Linked DNA regions of Homo sapiens. The protein of the gene in region 1 purifies or fractionates together with the protein of each later gene. This does not show direct contact. Each region holds a gene or a part of one and is shown in the gene's direction. Other genes may lie near its edges.

The links. Proteins that work in one complex are often made in the same cells at the same time.
Region 2: the proteins of SPA17 (region 1) and PRKAR2B purify together in Homo sapiens (affinity purification with mass spectrometry; 3 studies listed by BioGRID and IntAct, with this or other methods). This does not show direct contact.

The regions. Positions count from the first base shown.
Region 1 is NC_000011.10:124,676,894-124,683,927, forward strand, and holds part of SPA17 (sperm surface protein Sp17), read left to right. Parts: intron 1-4,495; coding exon 4,496-4,566; intron 4,567-7,034. UniProt on the Homo sapiens protein: Sperm surface zona pellucida binding protein. Helps to bind spermatozoa to the zona pellucida with high affinity. Might function in binding zona pellucida and carbohydrates.
Region 2 is NC_000007.14:107,152,692-107,159,725, forward strand, and holds part of PRKAR2B (cAMP-dependent protein kinase type II-beta regulatory subunit), read left to right. Parts: intron 1-485; coding exon 486-560; intron 561-4,292; coding exon 4,293-4,358; intron 4,359-4,494; coding exon 4,495-4,633; intron 4,634-6,757; coding exon 6,758-6,891; 3' UTR 6,892-7,034. UniProt on the Homo sapiens protein: Regulatory subunit of the cAMP-dependent protein kinases involved in cAMP signaling in cells. Type II regulatory chains mediate membrane association by binding to anchoring proteins, including the MAP2 kinase.

The DNA.
Region 1 (7,034 bases):
AAAAGTTGGAAGGGGAAAAAACTAAAATTATTTGGGAAAAGAGGTGAATTATAATGAACATCAATTTTATTATAAGATTAACTACAAATTCTTGCAGTAAAAGTCTTTAGTCATTTATTTAATTTTAGAACTCAGAAATATTCCATTATAAAAACATTTGCGTCATTGTTACTGGATCACAATAATTAAAGCAAATGATGATTCAGATTAGTGGTCTCAGGACACTAGCTCTCTAATAAACAATGGGTAAAACCATTTGAAAAAATTGTAAGCACCACACCCAATTCCACCCATGTCAACCAAAGACAAATTATCTAGAAGATACAAGTATCAGAATTCAGTCTCTTCAAAAAGGAAAAAAAACAATCATTATGGACCTCTGGCTCAGTCTCCCACACAATGCAAGAATTCCCTTGCCAGCATTCATCATAGGTGGTTACTACTCTTAATTTTTATTTTTGTGATGGGGAACATGTTAGTATATGATTTAAATGGTATTTCAGGTCACTAGGAAAAAGGTGGACTTTTTGTTATTTTAAGATAAAGGAAAAAGATAAAATTGGATCAATTTCTTATACACAAAGACAAATTCCAAATTAGTCGAGTATATAAATATTTTTTAAAAGAAACCATACAGATACTAGAAGAAAATATGGATGAATTTCTCTATAAGAGAAGAAAAAATTTTGCTAGCTAAATTGCTTTAATTGCTTCAAAAATTCGGAAGCAATTAGAGAAAAGATTGTTATAAATTGACAACATAAAAGTAAACTTTTACATGAGAAAAAGCACTGTGAGGAAAACAAAACTACAAAAGACAAACAAAAAATATTTGCAATTTATATCCCAATGGGTTAATAGCCCTAATAAATAAATAGTTTGTAAAAACAGTGTGTTATAGGCTTATAGAATCCAACAGAAAATATTGGCAAGAGGTATGAGCAAACAATTCACACAAAAATGAATGCAAATGGCACTTATGAAAGTATATTCAAACTAATGCATAATAACAGAAGTCCAAATCAAAACTACACTGAGCTACCAATAACAACCCCTCCATTACATTGGCAAAAAGCCAACATGCTCTGTAGGCTGTGGGATAATAAGCATTTATATACATTGCTGGTAGATAAGCAAAATGCCATAACTTCCAGGAGGGGAACTTAGCAATACCTACCAAAATTATATATGTATTTAACCTTTGACCCGGAGGTGCCACTTCTACACTTTTCAGGGCATCATTCTTTGTAGAAACAACCCAAATATCCACAGGAGTTTGAGTGAACAAACTATAATACATCTATACAACTGAATTATATATATAGCTGTTTTCAAAAATGAGAACTATCTCTCGATAATACTATGGATGATACTGTGGAGTGATTTTCGGGATATATTCAGTGAAAACAGCAAGATGGGGAAAAGTGTGCTTAGTGTGCTACCATTTTTTTTTTAAACACAGACGGGGGTCTCATGATGTTGTCCAGGCTGGCCTCAAACTCCTGGGCTCAAGTGATGATCCTCCTGCCTCAGCCTCCCAAAGTGCTGGAATAACAGCTGTGAGAAACAACACCTGGCCAGTATGCTATCATTTAACAAAAGAGGTTGATATGAATACATAACTGTGTGTGTGTGTGTGTGTGTGTGTGTGTGTGTTTGTGTGTGTATTTGCCACAGGGTTTGGCTCTGGCTCTGTCGCCCAGGCTGAAGTGCAGTGGTGTAATCGTGGCTCCACTGCAACCTCCCAGGCTCAAGCAGCCTTCCCACTTCAGCCTCCCAAGTAGTTGGGAACTACAGGCATGCACAAACACGCTGGGCTAATTTTTGTTTTGGGGAGTTTTTGTTTTTTGTTTTGGCAGAGACAGGGTTTTGCCATGTTATCGAGGCTGGTCTTGAACTCCTGAGCTCAAGCATCCGCCAGCCTCCGCCTCCTAAAGTTCTGGGATTACAAGAATGAGGCACCATGCCCAACTTTGTTTATATTTTTAAATGGAAAAGTAAATCTTTGAAAACTTAACATTTGCCTTTAGGAGAAAGTGAACAGGGTAGAGAGAACATGATAGAAAATATCTTGAATTTCGAATCATAAAAGTTTAACATAGTTATAATTTTAAATTTAAAATTGTTAAGCTACTCGGGAGGCTGAGGCAAGGGAATGGCTTGAACCCAGGAGGCGGAAGTTGCAGTGAGCCGAGATCGCACCACTGCACTCCAGCCTGGTGACAGAGTGAGACTCTGTCTCAAAAAAAAAAAAAAAGCAATTTCTAAAATGTAAAAGCAAAGTGAAACATATGAGCCTAACTAGTATAGACTGCGTGACATAACCATACAGAAAGGAATTATTTCAAGTGATATTAAAATGGAGTAATTTGACCGTACATGCCTAGTGCATATATCCTAAAAACAAAATGAACTTCAAAAAAAAAAACCCTTAAGCTGTTTTCAGTAATCATTGTTAATCATATTATGGTATGGTTATTCTGAAATTATATAGTGAAATTATATATTGTAGAACAAAGCAAGTAAGCAACTAAGCTAGTGTTATTAGGAATAAGATTTTTGGTGCAGGAAAAACAACATACAATTATGAAAATGAAAGAGGTTAATAAAATCCTGTAATCTTAAATTTGAGTTGAAAAATATCAGTGTGACCTCATGTTTTCTCTTTAAAAAATGAAAGAAGTATTTTCTAGCTCTGTACATTAAAGGTCTCAAAACAATGACCAACCCAATACCAGTGAGCACCCAGCTTCCAGGTTGTCATCTCTAAATACCATTCCCAGGAATGAGGGCTTCTTGGAAAACAAGCTAATTTCATGAACTTGGCAGGGAATATACCAGATTAGGCTGAACGTCTTGCCATACCAGAGAACAAGGAAGCTATCAAAGGTTACTAGAGGTGTTTCCAAAGGACTCAGGAACATTTGAGCACCTGAATAAGCTACCACTGGACAAATGTTTAATAATTAGAGCATCAATAAGAATAATACGTGCATTGGATTAAAATGCATCCATTTTCTTAAACATTCGTGAATTTGTGATGGTTAAAAAAAAACTCATTGGTCATCCTGAGAGGATCCTAGGAATCCAACTGATTATTCTGAAAACTGGTAAATAAAAGGAAAGGAAAGAACTAAACCTTTAACCTTTCTTTTCTGTAACAACTGTTCTTCGGAGTAACCAAACAGTTGATGAGGAAAAGTTTTCCTTAATGAGTACTCCAGAAAATAAAGAAGTATTGATCAAATTAGAGCATTACCATTTCACAACCCCTAAGGAAATGATCTAAGCAAGGATCATCAGGGGGCCGATAAAAATTATAAAAAGAGTAACCAGATATTATAAATTTTATGACAGAATTACACAGCACTACCAATCAAGTATACTTGCAGAAAAAAAATCAAACCGTCAAACCCGAATTAGATCAAACCTATACAGCTAGCTACCAGTTTACAGGAAATTCAAAGGCTGAAGAACTTGTTAAAAGCCACCATGGGGATAGTCAGAAACATCTGAACTGTGAAAAACTCCAAAGGGAAAATGACGTAATTTCATCAACAGATAAATTGCAAGGAAAGAATAGGGGCTGGGGGCTCTTCCTTTAAAAGAAATTTAAAAGACATACAAAGAGCTGTGTGTGCCCGTTTTCGGGGTCCTGATTTGAACCAACAAATAAATAGACAATGGAAGAAATTTGGATAGTTGACTGAATAGTTGAGGATATTGAGGAATTATTAATATTTTTAGTATTTTGAAGTATGATAATGGTGGTGTGGTTATATTTTAAAAGAGTATATATTGAGATACATTCTGAAATAAATAATTGTAGATAAAATAACAGGATGCAAGGGGTTGGGTTAAAAATAATCAGAAAAAAGTGCAGAAAAATAATCAGAAGAAAAGGTTATAAATAAAATAAATCATGGGTTGATCATTGAATCTAGACAGTATGCTCATGGGAGTTTGTTATCATATCTACTTTTTAAGTATTGAAATTTTTATAATATAAAGTTAAAGAAAAAAATTGTTTAAAAATAAATACCTCTGCTTGTCTGTGTCAACTGTCTACATAATATACTTCATTAAAAAAAATTTCTCCCATCTTTCACTTTTCCAGACTTTCTGACAACTTAGCATTTAGGTTTATACATTTTTCTGTGTTTACTAATACATGTTCTAAGTGTCTACATTTATATTTAAGTACTGGCATTTGTTCTTTTTCCCATTTTATTATAAATTTTATGAAGGCAGAAATTACGTTTTTAGTGCTTTTCTAAATATCCCCAAAGGCTCATCCAATGTTCAGTTGGTTATCATATGTTTAATAATCACTGGTAATGTCTGCAGTGCTACGCTATGCACAATGTCAATAAGATTTTGGACTGCCAGTAAAGAACCTGTAATTTGAAACAAGAAACTTACATTTGTGTCACTATTCTACATTTACCTTAATGAATTCAAATAAATCTGAAGTTCTTATATTTTTATTATTTAGAAACCAACTTTGATCCAGCAGAATGGGGGAGTAAGGTAGAAGACCGCTTCTATAACAATCATGCATTCGAGGTATGGTCCTTTGAAGCTGTTGGATTTGGCTATTTCTTCTCTCTGTCTACAGCTAGCAATTATTAGGCTATCCCCAGAATTGTGAGAATTATGTGAGGAGGCATCACAAATAACTTATTAAATCTTATTAAATTAAAATTTAATAAATCTTATTTTATTAAAAAGATTATTTATTAAAAAGATTTAATAAAAACTTATTAAATCTTATTAAAACTTATTAAATTAAAATTGTGCTGGGATTTTTTGCTGAGAATATTTTTCTAAAGTATCTGAGTCATGTACAGATATTTCACTTAAGTTTAATGATGAACAACAGGAAGAAGGTGCTTAAAAGTTATGAATAATTATTTCATCATTTATTCTTCAAATGTTTTCAGCATCACAGTGCTAAGCAATAGCAGGTACTCCACAAATAATTACTGAATTAATAGATGATATTTCGTAGACCAAAACACTATTAGTCCAATTATTTCATTATCATCGATATGATATTATTGATACAAAAGACCGGTTAGAATTAAAGGTGGTAATGGTGTAGTTTTCTCTATAAAGCTAGCTTTTTCAGAGTCTGAGCCTTTCTCTTTAGCAGCTTTACAAAGACAGCTTTCTCAACCAAGTTTCCTCAAAAAAATTAAGCCCTAAACCAAAGGCACTAATTGCATGTAAGGAATCAGTGTCCTGATTTGTATCTAGAATGGTTCTGGTTAGGTACCATCCTTGGGAGAATTGAGAAAAGAGCTTCTCAAAACATTCTCTGTGTTCCATGGTTCAGATAATGAATGCTGGTTGAGAAAGGCTGTGTGGAATCAGCATTATTGGCATCAACTGGAAACTTGATAGAAATTCAGAGTCTCACAGGAAACATGAAAAACAAGGAAGTATGACACCCCAGAATGAACACAACAGTTCTCCACTAATAGATCATAACCAGAATGAAATTCTTAAAGTCTCAGATAAGGAACTCAAAATACTGATTTTTAAATATGGTCAGTGAGGTGCAAGAGAAATCTGAAAACCAATACAAAGAACTCAGTGAAACAATTCAGGATATAAATGAAAAATTTTACAAGGTGATAGATTTTTATTTTTAAAAAAACCCTAACATAAATTCTGGAATTGAAGAATTTATTGAAGGAAATATAAAATACATTCAAAAGATTTAACAATAGACTAGACTAAGTGGAACAAAAAAATTTTAGAACTTGAATACAGGTCTGAAACAATCCAGTAAGACAAAAATAAAAAAGAATAAACAAAGCCTTTAAGACATTTGGGACAACATAAAGCAGCTGAATATTTGAATTATTGGTATCCGCAAGGACAAAAAGATCAGAAGGCTTAGAAAACCTATTTAATGCAATAATAGATGAAGACATCACAAGTCTAGCAAGAGATTTAAACATCCAGATATAGGCGGTGCAGTGATTCCCCAAATACAATGCAAAAAAAAAAAAAAAGTTTTCACCACAGCACATTAAAATCAAACTGTCTAAAGTCAAAGAGTGAATTCTAAAAACAGCAAGATGAGAACATCTCATCAACTGTGAGGGAAACCCGATCAGACTAATAACCGTACTTCTCAGCAGAAACCTGACAGGCCAGGAGAGAGTGGGATGATAATTCAAAGAGCTGGAAGAAAACAACTATCAGCCAGGAATTCTATATCCAGCAAAATTAACCTTCATAAATGAAAGAGAAATAAAGTATTTCCCAAACAAGCAAATGCCAAGGGCATTCGTCTGTACTAGGCTGGCCCTACAAGAAGTGTTCAAGGAAATCCTAAACTTGGAAGCAAAAAAATGGAAGTTAGCATCATGAAAACACAGGAAAGTATAAAACTCACTGTTAAAGCGACCACACAAAGGAGGAACAGAAATGAATCAAATGGGCCCACTACAGAATTCCACCAGTCCACAATGACAAACAGTAAGAGAAAAAGAAACAATGTATAAAATAACCAGAAAGCAATTAACAATAAGACAAAAGGAACAAAACTCCACATATCAATAATAACTTTAAACATATATGGATTAAATGCTCAACATAAAAGCTATAGACTGGCTGAATGGATTTCTTTAAAAAAAAAAAAAAAACATGATTCAACTATATGCTGCTAATAGGAAACTCACCTTACCTGTAAAAGCATTTAGACTGAAAGTAAAGAAGTGGAAAAAGATATTCCATGCCAACAGAAACCAAAAGCAAGCAGAAGTAGCTATAGTTACATTAGGTAAAACAGACTTTAAGTTAAAAACAGTAGAAAACAACAACAAACAAGTTTATTTTATAATGATAAAGGGATCAATTCAGTAAGAGGATATAACAATTGTAAATATATACACACCCAGCACTGGAGCAACCAGATTCATTAAAAAAAATTTCTATGTCTAAAGACAGAGGTAGACTGCAATACAATAATAGTGAGGGGCTTCAACACCCCACTCATAGCATTAGACAAATTATCTAAA
Region 2 (7,034 bases), on another chromosome or scaffold:
ATGTCTCTGTTGGATTATCAGCTTACATCTGGTAAAAATTTTGTCCACATCACACAGTGCGTGGTAGACAGCTGATCTTTTCCAGCAGCATATTTCTTTAAATAAGAGTAGGTCAGGGATTGGAAATCTGGTGCCTTCAGAGCTAGGCAGGTAACACAGAGAAGAAAACCAAGCCAGGAAGGGACTTTGGCAGATTGGAGAACATGTATTTCATTAAAGAAACAGCTGCTATCCCACCATAGTTTTATTGTTGCCATGTGGAAATATGGGCTATGTGATGCTGATTTTTCAAGAGAAGCTGGAGATTGAATTTTTATGAAAAATTATTTTAAAATGCTGGCTGGTAATTAATACAACAAACACATATACAACCTACACACTGCTCGATTTATTTGGCCTATAGGCTACCAGTTTTTTACTCCCGAACTAGATAAGCTTACCCAGTTAATTTGTTTCTATTTAATATTGTTTTTCTTTCTTTGTAGTTTTCTGAACGCCTGAAAGTAGTAGATGTGATAGGCACCAAAGTATACAACGATGGAGAACAAATCATTGCTCAGGTATGATATTTTGAAATGTAATTCAGTTTAGGGTTATATTCCAAAAGGTTCCTGTAGTGGTAGATCTTGATAAACTTTTCATATTTCTAAAATTAGTATGCAGTGATGGGTTAAATAAATATTACTTCTACCAAATGACCTGTTAAAAATGGTTTCATTTATAGTCATTACTCTATTGAATATTTTTGTTTATGTAATTAACTCCTAATGAAGGTGTATTAAACCATCAAATGGTTTTCTGCATCATTGTAGTCATTTATAAGAGGAAAAAACAGGTGAATGTTCCATGACATTAATGAGGACCCAGAAAGTACACTGGAAAATTCTATAGAGTTTTGCATGATCAGTTCATGATGAAAATTCCTGAGGCTGCTCCTTGATAAAATTCACCAAGAAAGGAACACACTGCAACATATACTGTTTTGGCTTCCAAGACTACATGTGGGTCAACATGTTATTTAATCCCTAATACTTTTCTAAGATCCCAGCTGGAACCAATAATATTAGATACCTGGGTTGGAGTAGGGCTACCAAAAGTAGAATTTGTGAAGACTGTTGAAGTTCACAGGTAAAGCATGCAGATGATAGTACCTTGTTTCCTAGTTATATTTTTGAAGCACTAAGCAAATGATTAAAATGGATTTTTAATAGATTCTGTAATTTTTGTATCACAGCCTTATACTGTTTTGTGCTCTTTATCTGAAATGCAGTCTTTTCCTTTATATGGGAAACAAGATTCAAGGTCTTTGAGACTGAGAAAAAGAATTGTTTTAGAAGACAAATACATAAGTAAATCTTTCGATCAACACCCCTCTCCCATTGCTGAGTGTGTGTGTGTGTATGTGTGTGTTAGAGCAGTCAGGGATTGGGAAGAAATGGAGTCAAGCAAGGTTAAAGTTCTACTGTATAAACTAGTAAATAACAAAGCAAAGAGCATGTTTTAAATGATTTTTTAAGGTTTTATTTTGAAATAATTATAGATTCACAGGAAGTTGCAAAAATAGTTTTGAGAGGTCCCGTGTACTCTTCACCCAGTTTCTCCTAATGCGTTTTGCATCACTGTTAATAACAATATCAAAACTAGGAAAATGACATTGGCATAATTCACAGACCATATTCAGTTTTCACCAGTTTTACATACACTTAGAGCGTGCTTTAAAAATAGTTAAAAATTACTCAGCAGTTAATAGACCTATTATGATTCAGAACACTCGAAAACTTAATATGAAGCTTTTATGAAAACCTGATACAAGAATAAGGGAAAGGAGATATGCTATACTTAGGGTTTATTAAGGATATTCTTACATATTTGTTGTCTTTTAAGCATTTATAAATATACATATACACCCTATATTCTAAAAATCTAAATTCAACATTTATTTTTGTGATAGAATCAGATGCTAAACTTCTTGAATTTGTATTAAGGAGTTTTGAAATATTTTAAGTTTCTCCAGAATCACTTTGAGAGGCTTAGAGAAGTCAGTGTCTGTATTATTATCTTCCATATTGTATTGTTTAATTCAGACTGCATCATTGGAGATCAAGGCAGAGTTCATTAAGAAACAAAAGCAAGAAAGAACAGGTATATGGGTAGAGCAACACTTTTCTTTTAGAAGTCCTTCCAAAGCCTTGAAATGGAATGTCAGTAGGCTAGCATGTCAGAGTTTGGTCCTCAGTTGACTGTAGTGAAAATGTCAAGGCCCACATCTGCTGCTTCCGGCTCCATCTGGATGCTTTCTGCTCTTTGCAAGTTGATGGCTTATCTTGGGTCACCACACCAATGCTTGCGATGTTAGGATGACGCAGGGTGCATGTCTCGGCACTTCCTCAGGAGCACAGGATCCGCAGACATGTTTCTGCCAACTAAGGGGACGCTGCTGGCATACACAGCAGTGTTGCCATTTCCAACTATGTATGCTGTTATCTAGGCTGAAATTTGGGTGAAATTCTTACCCCAGTGTTGCCACATTTTCTTGGTTTTTTAGCAGAAATACAGTGGTAGAGAATATATTATTTCAAGGCCAGGCACAGTGGCTCACGCCTGTAATCCCAGCACTTTGGGAGGCTGAGGCAGGTAGATCACTTCAAGGTCAGGAGTTCGAGACCAGCCTGGCCAACATGGTGAAACCCCATCTCTAATAAAAATACAAAAAAATAAATAAATACGGGTTCTAGATCCCTGAGGAATTGCTACACTGTCCTCCAAAATGGTTGAACCAATCTACATTCCCACCAACAGTGCAAAAGCATTCCTATTTCTCCACAACCTCACCAGCATCTATCGTTGCTTGACTTTTTAATAATTGCCATTCTGACTGGCGTGAGATGGTTTCTCATTATGGTTTTGATTTGCATTTCTCTAATGATCAGTAATGATCTTTTTTTCATTTTTTTTTTGGCTGCATAAATATCTTCTTTTGATTCTTTTGAGAAGTGTCCGTTCATATCCTTTGCCCACTTTTTAATGGCAGAAATACCATTTGACCCAGAAAACCCATTACTGGGTATATACCCAAAGGAATATAAATCATTCTGCTATAAAGACACATGCACACATATGTTTATTGCAGCACTATTTACAATAACAAAGACATGGAACCAACCCAAATGCCCATCAGTGATAGACTGGATAAAGAAAACGTGGTACATATATACCATGGAGTACTATGCAGCCATAAAAAAGAATGAGATAATGTCCTTTGCAGGACATGGATGAAGCTGGAAGCCATCATTCTCAGCAGACTAACACAGGAGTAGAAAACTAAACACCGAATGTTCTCACTCATAAGTGGGAGTTGAACAATAAGAACACATGGACACAGGGAGGGGAACATCACACACCGGGGCCTGTCAGGGGGTGGGGAGTGAAGGTAGGGAGAGTATTAGGACAGATACCTAATGCATGCGGGGCTTAAAACCAGACAGGTTGATAGGTATAGCAAACCTCCATGGCACATGTATACCTGTGTAACAAACCTGCATGTTCTCCACATGTATCCCTGATTTAAAGTAAAATTTTAAAAAAAGGAAAAAAAAATTAGCTGGGTGTGGTAGCACATGCCTGTAATCCCAGCTACTTGGGAGGGTGAGGTGGGAGAGTCGCCTGAATCCAGGAGGTGGAGGCTGCAGTGAGCTGAGATTGCACCACTGCACTCCAGCCTGGGTGACAGAGCGAGACTCCATCTTGGGGGGGAAAAAGAAAGTATTATTTCAAATAATTTTACAAATGAAATCATTACTACATAATTGTCCATCAAAACCTCTTCATTTAGGGCCGGGCTCGGTGGCTCACGCCTGTAATCCCAGCACTTTGGGAGGCCGACGCAGGCAGATCTCGAGGTCAGGAGATCAAGACCATCCTGGCTAACACGTTGAAACCCCGTCTCTACTAAAAATACAAATAAATTAGCCGGGCGTGGTGGCAGACGCCTGTAGTCCCAGCCACCCAGGAGGCTGAGGCAGGAGAATGGTGTGAACCCGGGAGGTGGAGCTTGTAGTGAGCCGAGATCGCGCCACTGCATTCCAGTCTGGGCAACAGAGTGAGACTCCGTCTCAAAAAAAAAAAAAACCTCTTGATTTAGAAACCGAGACAGCTTGTTCCCTTAGGATTTCACTTTTCAGGTGAATATGTGTACTTTGGGGTTGGATCAATTTTAGGGATATGAAAGGTAACAAGATTGTTGTCAATTAATTTGCATTTTCACCGTCTGTTTTTGTTATTGATTCCAATAGGGAGATTCGGCTGATTCTTTTTTCATTGTAGAATCTGGAGAAGTGAAAATTACTATGAAAAGAAAGGTAAGCATTCTAAGTCCTCAGAACCCACATACTGTTAGCAAGGAACACAACAGATCTACTTTTTGATGTTTAGACTGAGGTTAATTTTATTTTTCATAAGCTGAGGAAAAGCTCATCTTTTTAATTGCCTTGTCAGGGTAAATCAGAAGTGGAAGAGAATGGTGCAGTAGAAATCGCTCGATGCTCGCGGGGACAGTACTTTGGAGAGCTTGCCCTGGTAACTAACAAACCTCGAGCAGCTTCTGCCCACGCCATTGGGACTGTCAAATGTTTAGGTAGGGATTGCAACAGTGGGCGTGCTTCTGCTGGTTGAACTTATGTCTGCATTTTATGTATTCATGTTGAGTGAATCATTTTATTGGGTTCACAGGTTTTGTGGTCCCCACAAAAGGTAACAAGATTAGGACTCATTGCCTTATAAAATCAATTTGTGGAAGCCATTTTTTCTTCGAAATTTTTACATCCAGATACATTTTGCTCTTCTTGTGTATATATGAAATAACATCCCATATTAGTCATTAAAATAAGAGTTCCAAGTACCACGTTTTATATGGAATCTCTCAAATAAGCAACATGTGCTATGTTCCTCAAAAGAGAAGGCTAAAGTACTATTTTTATAAAGTCCGTTATTAAGATCTGCGGGGAATGCTGAGATGTTGTGAGAATCCTTACTCATTACAGTATTGGGACACAAAGGTTCAGGTTTGTCAAAGCACAGTCAAATGTTCTTTGCTGTTCAGTTGTTATTACTATTTTACCAGAGTAGCTTGGCAGAAATGTCATCTTCAGGTGCAGGCATCTGTATATATCTGAGATTATATATCTGAGAAATCACTTACTTTGATAAGAAAATACAGTTTAGAAGGTGGCAATATGGAGGGTATTTTAAGAAAATTGATCTCACAGTTATTACCCTCTCTGTGCTTTTCATCCATAATTCAATAGCATAAACTTAATGTTTTTAAGATTTGCAAGGATCCTTAGAATTAACTTCTTAGAGAAGTCATTCTTTAAAAGGGTTTAAATAAGTATAATATTAATCAAGTGTTAAATTTGGATGGAAGAGAAGACGATTAGAAACTGGCAGGTAATTTCCCTAAGTAGGGCTATTAGAAAGAGTAAAGGTGAGTGAGTGAAAGTCTATTAGAAATAGTAAAGGTGAGTGAGTGAAAGTCTATTACAGTAAAGGTGAGTGAGTGAAAGTCTATTAGAAAGAGTAAAGGTGAGTGAGTGAAAGTCTGTTAATTTTTTTTCAATAATAGATTATTATACTCACATCAAAGAAAACCTGAGAAATACAGAAAATGTAGAAAAAACATAACACCGCCACTCAGTGATTTCTGCTATTATAATTCCTTCTTGTCCTTTTTATTTGTGTGGGCTTCCAGTTGTTAAACAGTTTTCCAAACAACTTTTAAAGTTCATTATCGCTTAGGAATGTTCTTATTTTATTACACCAAATTTTAAAATTCTTTTAGGTAAATATATACACGATAAATTAATCATTCCTTAGTGGTAAATACTTCGAAGGTTTTGGCTCCAACTTTTTTGTGGGGAGCAATTTTTTGTGCATAGAAGACTTTTCTGTATTATAGGAGTTTTCCTTAGAAATGGTTTTCAGGAGTGGGTTTTTAAAAAATTAACTTTTGACACATATTGCCAGATTACTTGTATTTGTACACTACTAGCAGTGCCATAATGCCCATTCACCCTATTCTTGTAAACATTGCCTTTTTTATCTTTTTATCTTTAGTGTAAAAGGCAAAGAAGATCTATTTTAATTTGTACTTTTATGTATAGAGTATGATCATATTTTCTATTTATATATTATAAATCCAGTTTTAAAATCCAGGAGACAGGCAAGCAAAGTGATTTCTAGCATGTACTTATAGAAGTAAACAAAAGCATTATGTCAGCTGCCATTTTTGGATTGCATAGACATAGTATGGCAGCAAAACTTACAAAAGGTTAACACTTGGCCTTCACAACATGGCATTTTAAACCCTGAGAAGGGAACACAGGATAGAAAACACTCTTGTGCCACCCTTGAGGAGTTCACATTGCTAAGGTGGAGACAGCACATTTATTTTTTAAAATTCTAAGGTCTTTCCATGATAGTCCCTCATTCTTTTCTCAGCTTGGACCAGGAACCTCCCACCAACTTAGCATTGCTCATCATATTGCCGAGGGACTGCAGAGTGTGGTCCAAGAGCGTGGCCCTGGCTGCTTCCTTTTTCAAGTGGAACATTTTTATCATTATGCTTTTTCTTGTATTTTATAGTATTTACCTAAAATATCATTGCACTATTGATATATATGGAGTCGGTATTGTAAATGACTTAGAAATTCTGCAGATTTGCAAAGAATGTTATTTAAAAAAAAATCTTCTCTTTTCTCAGCAATGGATGTGCAAGCATTTGAAAGGCTTCTGGGACCTTGCATGGAAATTATGAAAAGGAACATCGCTACCTATGAAGAACAGTTAGTTGCCCTGTTTGGAACGAACATGGATATTGTTGAACCCACTGCATGAAGCAAAAGTATGGAGCAAGACCTGTAGTGACAAAATTACACAGTAGTGGTTAGTCCACTGAGAATGTGTTTGTGTAGATGCCAAGCATTTTCTGTGATTTCAGGTTTTTTCCTTTTTTTACATTTACAACGTATCAATAAACA